Homo sapiens: one gene and its partner. The protein of the gene in region 1 interacts with the protein of each later gene in a biochemical or structural test. Each region holds a gene or a part of one and is shown on either strand. Other genes may lie near its edges.

Evidence for each region.
Region 2: the proteins of TUT1 (region 1) and PIP5K1A form a complex in vitro, tested with the Homo sapiens proteins (one study listed by IntAct).

Annotation. Positions count from the first base shown.
Region 1 is NC_000011.10:62,588,713-62,593,075, reverse strand, and holds the start of TUT1 (speckle targeted PIP5K1A-regulated poly(A) polymerase), read left to right. Parts: upstream 1-1,552; 5' UTR 1,553-1,590; coding exon 1,591-1,672; intron 1,673-3,854; coding exon 3,855-4,045; intron 4,046-4,363. UniProt on the Homo sapiens protein: Poly(A) polymerase that creates the 3'-poly(A) tail of specific pre-mRNAs. Localizes to nuclear speckles together with PIP5K1A and mediates polyadenylation of a select set of mRNAs, such as HMOX1.
Region 2 is NC_000001.11:151,236,519-151,240,329, reverse strand, and holds part of PIP5K1A (phosphatidylinositol 4-phosphate 5-kinase type-1 alpha), read right to left. Parts: intron 3,773-3,811; coding exon 3,567-3,772; intron 2,149-3,566; coding exon 2,065-2,148; intron 1,201-2,064; coding exon 1,152-1,200; intron 376-1,151; coding exon 291-375; intron 1-290. UniProt on the Homo sapiens protein: Catalyzes the phosphorylation of phosphatidylinositol 4-phosphate (PtdIns(4)P/PI4P) to form phosphatidylinositol 4,5-bisphosphate (PtdIns(4,5)P2/PIP2), a lipid second messenger that regulates several cellular processes such as signal transduction, vesicle trafficking, actin cytoskeleton dynamics, cell adhesion, and cell motility.

The DNA of each region.
Region 1 (4,363 bases):
TAGGCAGCCTGGACCCAGGCGGCTTGCTCCAGCTAGGCTTCTTGTGGGACCCAAACTGCTCCCCAGCTCCCAGTGGTGCTGGAGCTCAAGAACCATCTTGGCCCAGATTCATTCAAAGGAGTTGAGATGAGCTTTCTGGATGACTGGTGGCCTCCATAGGAAAGGGGAATGGGGGTGTTTCTTCCTCTGTTTCCCACCTCTTACTCCCCTCTCCCTTTTGTTTAAGGAATTCTGGAAGTTGCTAGCAGCCAGGGTAACATGTATACCCCCTTGGGGGTGGTGGTGGGGTTATAGGAGGATCCCCTCACCTAGCTGTGTGGTGTATTTGGCAGACGAGAATTCTACCACTGAACCACCCTAGCACCTCTGGGTGTATGTGTACAGCCTGCTGCTTCAGGATCCTCAAGGCCAGTCTCGATGATATCCCGATCCACTGTAGCACTGTTTCCTGCCTTAAAGGTTTGGGACACTGAGATTAGATGCCTGAGCTGGGCCCATTAGAAGGAACACCTTAGGATAGAGAACAAGAAGTTCAGCCTGCTGTGTGCTCCTTGGGCACTTCCTTTAGAGATGGGAAACGGCCTCAACAGTTGTGACTTGTTCAAGGTCAAAGACCTTGGTGTCTGCCTTAGGTCCACTGCTCTTTGCGCCATTCAAAGCTGTGGGCTGATAACCACAGCACAAGCTGCTGAGCCCATCTGATAGTTCTCTCCACCTCGTTATGGTCCCTGTCCCTAGGGCATCCCCAGCTCCCCGTAGTCCCTCCCTGTCCTGAGCCTACACCTCGGCGGCGTTGGGATGAACTGACAATTATACCAGGAGGGGGTTGACAGCATTCGCCCCCTCCAGTGTCTAAACTCAGTTACTGGCACTCGGTTTTGTCTTGTCGCACTGCTCTGAGGTGCGCCAGTAGCTCTGGCGCCTCCGGCGTACACCACGCAGCCCACTACTGCGGAAGGAATGGGCCTGGCTCCAGGACCTCGTGGAGTCCGGAAGGTGCCCGGTGGTGGCAGAGCTCCCCAACCAGGGCTAGAAGCCGTCGCAGAACACCCGTTTTGCGGGAGGACAGGGGGCGGAGGGAGGGAGTAACAGCCCTGAAAAGGTTGGAAGTCCAGGGACAGCCCTGGGCTCCGTGGGGCAAAGAATTGGAAGCCGCCGATCCTCCGCCTTTATTCGTCGGGTAAATAAGGGTCGAGGGTACAGACGCACGGGTGTCTACTGCGGGGTGAAGGAGCTGCCGCAAGATGCCACCCGGCGCCGGCCTTTGTGGCTGCTGTCATGAATATTCACGATGCTTTGGGCCAATCAACGTCTGAACAGCTTAAAGCACACCAATCGGCTTACCGCATGCAGATAAGCATCGTAACGCGCCGCTTTTCCTGAAACGGGCGGGGACTGGACAGCGGCTAGAAACGGAACCCAGAGTCGAAGGAGCTTGGTTTCCGGAGGAGTGTGTCCGCGCAATTGAACGACTTTATGTCACTTCCTATCGGATCGGCGGAAGTTGCTTCCGAGCGCGTTGAGCTTTGGCGAAGTGGGTTCCGGTGGTGGCAGAGGTGCTTGTGTTTTTGTCGGTACAGGAGAGTCGCTATGGCGGCGGTGGATTCGGATGTCGAATCGCTGCCGCGTGGGGGGTTCCGCTGCTGCCTCTGCCACGTTACTACAGCCAACCGTAAGCGGTGGCTAGTGAGGGACCCGGGGGTGGTTGCGGGCTTTCGTCTTTTGATCCTGGCGAAAGTTAGGGTTATAGGTAGTCAGTCGTTCTTGTCAAGTTGATTGGTAGGGTCTCTCACCTCCGTTTTTCTCTGCAAGTCCGAGGGGATTTGGAGAGTCGGGAAAGTTCCACCACATTACACTCCTCAGTATATGAAATCTCCACAACGCAAGTTTAATTGTTTTATTACTTCTTTAACCATCATCTATTGGACATATGCTCTGTGCCTGGTATTCTGCTGATCTTTAGGGTGGGGGAGGGGGGTTCAGAGATGAAGGAGCTCACCGTCTAGAGAATGAGAAAGTTTCAATGCTTTATAGATATGTTCGGAGAACTGTGGGACCACAGAGAATTAGTAACTAAATCAGAGAAGCCCTACAGAGGACCTACTCAAAGGAGGGGATGGATGAAATAGGTGTGGCATGAATGACTAGACCATAAGGTACCAGTGAGGAAGAGACAGAAGATGGGTTTGGAAAAATAGACAAGGTTCTTGTATGACACACAAGGGGTTCACTGTAACTTCAAATTCCACTTTTTTTTTTTTTTTGAGACAAGGTCTTGCTCTGTCACCCAGGCTGCAGTGCGGTGGTGTGATCTTGGCTCACTGCAGCCTCAACCTCCCGGGCTCAAACCATACCCCTGGCTAGCCTCCCAAGTAGTTGAGTCTACAGGTGTGCACCACCATACTTGGCTAATTTCTTTTTTCTTTTTTTTTTTTTTTTGAGACAGAGTCTCACTCTGTCACCCAGGCTGGAGTGCAGTGGCACGATCTTGGCTCACTGCAAGCTCCACCTCCTGGGTTCACCCCATTCTCCTGCCTCAGCCTCCCGTGTAGCCGGGACTACAGGCACCCGCCACCACGCCCGGCTAATTTTTTGTATTTTTTAGTAGAGACGAGGTTTCACCATGTTAGTCAGGATGGTCTCGATCTCCTGACCTCGTGACCCGCCCGCCTCGGCCTCCCAAAGTGCCGGGATTACAGGCCTGAGCCACCGCGCCCGGCCTACTTGGCAAATTTTTTAGTTTTTTGTAGAGATGGGTTTTCACCATGTTGCCTAGGCTGGTCTCCAATTCCTGGCCTCAAGCGATCTTCCCATCTTGGCCTCCCAAAGTGCTGGGATTACAGGCGTGAGCCAATGTGCCCAGCCCTACTTTTGAAGTCTGGAATCACAGTGTTCCCTAAACAGGGTTTACTTCCATTCTTCCTTTTCACTGTGAATGGCACTATCACTGTTCATCCAGTAAGCCAAGCCAGAAACCTAGGAGTCTTCTTTGGCCCCACATTTACTTTGGTGACATCAAGCAGCTAACTCAATAAAATAATAGCAACGGTTAGTTTTTCAACATTTACCGTGTACCAGACTCTCTCTGCCAAGTGATATATCTGAATAATACCTGTGTGTGAGGTGCTAGATACTGATATTTCCATTTTATATCTGAGGAAGTTGATGCACAGTGAGGCTTCATAACTTGACCAAGGTCTCACACAGGTTGACAGAGCTGGGATTTGAACTTGGGCAATGTAATTTCAGATCCTGCCTTTGACATCACTATATTATACCATGTCCAAAGATGATCCACAAAGTATTCCATGATCCAAATTTTTTTAGTTCTTGTGTAGATGACCTGGATAAGTTACCTGTTAATTTGTTTCCAACTCTACCTAGCACAAATAGGTGGTTTAAGAAATACTTTACTATCACACTGTTCTTTAAGTAAAAATAAACAAAATACTTGTAGTGTAGCCAGTTCTCCTGGGAACCCTCGTCTCTACTAAAAATACAAAAATTAGCCGGGTGTGGTGACACACGCCTGTAGTCCCACCTACTCACGAGGCTGAGGCAGGAGAATTTCTTGAACCTGGGAGGCAGACGTTGCAGTGAGTGGAGACTGCGCCACTGAACTCCAGCGGGGGCGACAGTGAGACTCTGTTTAAAAAAAATAAATTAAAAAAAAAAGAATGTACTATTTAGACAAATGTATAAGAGAGGAAGGTGAAAGGAGCCAGGACTTTGTTTATTCAAAGGTCACAGTTTCTGTGGCTTGGAAGGATCAGTAAGATTTAGGTATGCAGAGAGCAAAGGCAGACACGTCGAAGAGTGCTTTGCATGTTTTTGTCTCACACTTGTCTTTGCAGGACCCAGCCTTGATGCCCACTTGGGAGGCAGAAAGCACCGGCACCTGGTAGAACTACGAGCTGCGAGAAAGGCCCAGGGACTTCGAAGTGTGTTTGTCAGTGGCTTTCCCAGGGATGTGGATTCTGCTCAGCTCTCTGAGTACTTCCTAGCATTTGGACCTGTGGCCAGTGTTGTCATGGACAAGGACAAGGTAAAGTGAATGGCTCTCGGGTTAAAGAATGAATCAGTGCTGGGCGCGATGGCTCACGCCTGTAATCCCATCACTTTGGGAGGCTGAGGCAGGCGGATTACCTGAGGTTAGGAGTTTGAGACCAGCCTGGCCAACATGGTGAAACCCCATCTCTACTAAAAATAAAAAATTAGCTGGGTGTGATGGCGCATGCCTGTAGTCCCAGCTACTTGGGATGCTGAGGCAGGAGAATCGCTTGAACCCGGGAGGTGGAGGTTGCAGCAAGCTGAGATCGTGCCACTGTGCTCCAGCCTGGATTACAGAGCAAGACTCCGTCTT
Region 2 (3,811 bases), on another chromosome or scaffold:
CATCCACAACTACACATTATTTATTTATTTATTTTTTTGCAAATCCCAATTCCCCAGAAATGGTCCTCACCTCATTGACATATGCAGGAAGAGCCAAGGGGGAAACAGCAACTTGGAAATGACTATGACAGACTAACACAAAGGACAAGAAATGGCTCTCATGGGATGTAGGTGGAAGGAGAGGCCTCTGGCATTGGCAGCTCCCTACCAGAGGTGTCCTGCCCTCTGTTCTCTTGGGGTAAGGGAGCCACTGGGCAGGAGTAGGCAGTCAATTGGTAGAAACCACTTACAGGGAATCTTCTTAAATACTGTGTTGCACATGAAGCGCTGGAACCGTTCAGCGTAGAAGCCTGGGCGATGCACTGAGACAGTGTCCTGCAGAGCAGAAGAAATGCTATAGAGTTAGGAGGCCCGGCAAGAGGAACTCTAGTCCAAGGGCCATCTTCCCCCAGACTGAGCCCCTAGCAGAAGGGTAAAACCTACAGATGAAATAAACGGAAGGGGCCAGACGTAGTGGCTCACACCTGTAATCCTAGCATTTTGGGAAGCTGAGGTGGGCGGATCACCTGAGGTCAGGAGTTCGACACCAGCCTGTTCAACATGGCAAAACCTCATCTCTACTAAAAATACAAAACTTAGCCATGCATGGTGGTGGGCACCTGTAATCCCAGCTACATGGGAGGCTGAGGCATGAGAATTGCTTGAACCTGGGAGATGGAGGTTGAAGTGAGCTGAGATTGTGCCACTGTACTCCAGCCTGAGTGACAGAGCGAGACTCCATCTCAACTCAGCACTTTGGGAGGCCAAGGTAGGCGGATCACTTTGAGGTCAGGAGTTTGAGACCAGCCTGGCCAACATGGTGAAACCCATCTCTACTAAAAATACAAAAATTAGCTGGGCGTGGTGGCACGCGCCTGTGGTCCCACCTACTCGGGAAGCTGAGGCAGGAGAATCACTTGAAACTGCGAGACGGAGGTTGCAGCGAGCCGAGATCACGCCACTGCACTCCAGCCTGGGTGACAGAGTGAGACCCTGTCTCAAAAAAAAAAAAAAGAAAAAAGAAAAAAGAAAAAATTGCAAGAAACTGAGGCCAATCAGAAGTGATGGAGGCAGAAGTGTACGGTAAGAGAGCCTCTAGTATTACTACTTACTCCGTCATGTACCAGGGCTTTCCAAGAGTGCTCCAACTTCTTAACAAACCTGCAAGAAAAATGTACATCACCTACTCACGTCATTTTTAAATAAATGACCTTAATAACTTTATATTTTAGGGGGTTAAAGGGGTAATAGAAAATCTTGAAAAGACAGAAGCTGAGAAAGCACATCTACTGGTACACTGGTTTTCCCAAGAACAGGCATGGCAGTGCTGGTTCATCACAGAGACCAATGTTGTTTCTAGGTAAGTCAATTATTCCCCCCATGGGAAAAGGGCAATTTATGTCCCTGACAAATCAGGAACATGAATATTTATTATAAAAGGAGAGCTGAAGGAACAGATGGGCAAGACTGGAAAGGGTAGTTAAAACTGGATGATAATACTGAACCAACAAATCAAGTACCGTCCAGTCCTCATTAGTATTTAAAACCTTACAGGAACAAAACTGGGGTCTAACAATTCCAGCTCCTCCCTGATGATCACTCCATTGCCTCTTAGTTCCACAGTCTAATACATTTTACAGAACACAGTGACCCTCCTGTTTTTCCTCCTTGGAAAAGGGTAACGTTTCCAGTTGTATCCCCATGTGGAACATGACTCATCTCATAGGTTTTTGCAAAGAGCCAGACAGATGGCATATTCTACCCTGGTGCTTCCAAGGACTGACTCAGCTTTCCACAGAAGGTATACATTATGTCTGGGGAGATGGGGGAGGAAGGGTTATAAAGGCCGGGGAAAGAGGCAAAATCAAGGAAATAAACCATCTGAAAACTAATGAAGTAAGTAGCCAGACTGCAACTCACTGTTCTTGCTTCCGGAAGAACTTGGTAACAAACCTATCTAAAAGAGAAACGTGACTGGTTATCTGTATCCACCCTCTCTTAATTTGGGATCCATATGCTCCTCACCTGTAAGACTGTAGAATGTCAATGATGCCAATATAAAGCAGAAGCCTTTCCCCTTTACTATTCCGGGCAGGGATGCCACCCATACTGGAAAAGGCAAAAAGGAAAGGGTGAGAAAATCTGTTGGCTAGTTTAGTCAGATCAGGATGGGGAAGTGAAACCTACACATAACTGCCTCATCCTCCATAAACCAGAAGGTCAGATAATAAGTGATCAAGAAAACAAAAAGAGAAAAAAATACATTAAAAAAACAGGAGAAAATGAGATCCTTCCTCTAACCCCAGGAACTCTCTACAGTATGTATTATAATCTAGTTTTCTCCAAATCTTCTTGCCTACCTCTTCCACTCTGATTCCACCAAAGAGAATCTAAAATTGCCACTACTCAGCAATTTTGGGAATGCTCTCCTAATTAACTCAACTTCTTCAGTACTTTTGCTATCTTAATTTATGCCCACTAAGACACTCTTCTTGAGAGTCATATTACAGGATACCTTAAAAAAATGAAACAATCTAAGATATTTGTGACACTTCAGTAATTACACTTACTAGGCATGATGAAGAAGGATGCCTTCCACAAAGAAGTCTATAACAATTTTTTTTTTTTTGACACAGGGTCCCATTCTTTTTGCCCAAGCTGGAGTGCAGTGGCATGTACAGTGGCTCACTGCAGCCTTGACCTCCTGGGCTCAAGCAATTCTGCCTCATCAGCCTCCTGAGTAGCTGGGACCACAGGTGCTCACCATCACACTCAGGTAATTTTTGAGTTTTTGTAGTGATGAGGTCTCATCATGATGCTCAGGCTGATCTCAAACTCCTGGACTCAAGTGATCCGCCTGCCTCAGCCTTCCAAAGTGTTGGGATTACTGGCATGAGCCACTGTGCCCAGCCCTAATAAAGTTCTAATATAATTTGCAGACATGCATTTAAGACTATAATTTTTTAAGTCTTTAACTCTTGAACAGCTCTCCTTCCCACATATACTATAAACCCGAAATTAATCTTCTTTTCATTTTGTATTAAGAAAGCTCGTTCAAGCTCATTCTATACTTCTGTCAACAATAATGTTACTGATCCAACTGCTGAGTCAAGGCTACTCCTTTCCAGAAGCTGGGTCCCTTCCTAAAGAAAAAGTGCTGTGGCCGGGCACGGTGGCTCACGCCTGTAATCCCTGCACTACGGGAGGCCAAGGCGGGTGGATCACCTGAGGTCAGGAGTTCGTAGACTAGTTTGCCCAACATGATGAAACCCCTTCTCTACTAAAAATACAAAAAATTAGCTGGGTGTGGTGGCAGGTGCCTGTAGTCACAGCTACTCAGGAGGCTGAAGCAGGAGAATCGCTTGAACCCAGGAGGTGGAGGTAGTAGTAGGCTGAGATCGTGCCATTGCACATCAGCACATCAGCCTGGGCAACAAGAGTGAAACTAAAAAAAAAAAAAAAAAAAAAAGAAAAGAAAAGTGCTGTGGGCCTATGTTCTCCCCCCTAGTGGCCCTGAGCCCACTTACTGGTCATCAGTCTCCATGGTACCACCCCGTCGAGCCTCTCCCTGGATGGATTCCATGGCTGTGGAATACAGAGCCTTTTGGGGGGCCGGTCTTCGAGTATCAACTGAGTACTGTGTTTCACTGCTTAAGGGCTCTCGTTGTGCATGATCTATATTATGGATTGACATCAAGAGGCTGTAATCCATTATCTTGAAGCTCTGCAGCACCTAATGGAAGGAAAAAAACATGATCTGAGCCTTGGAAGA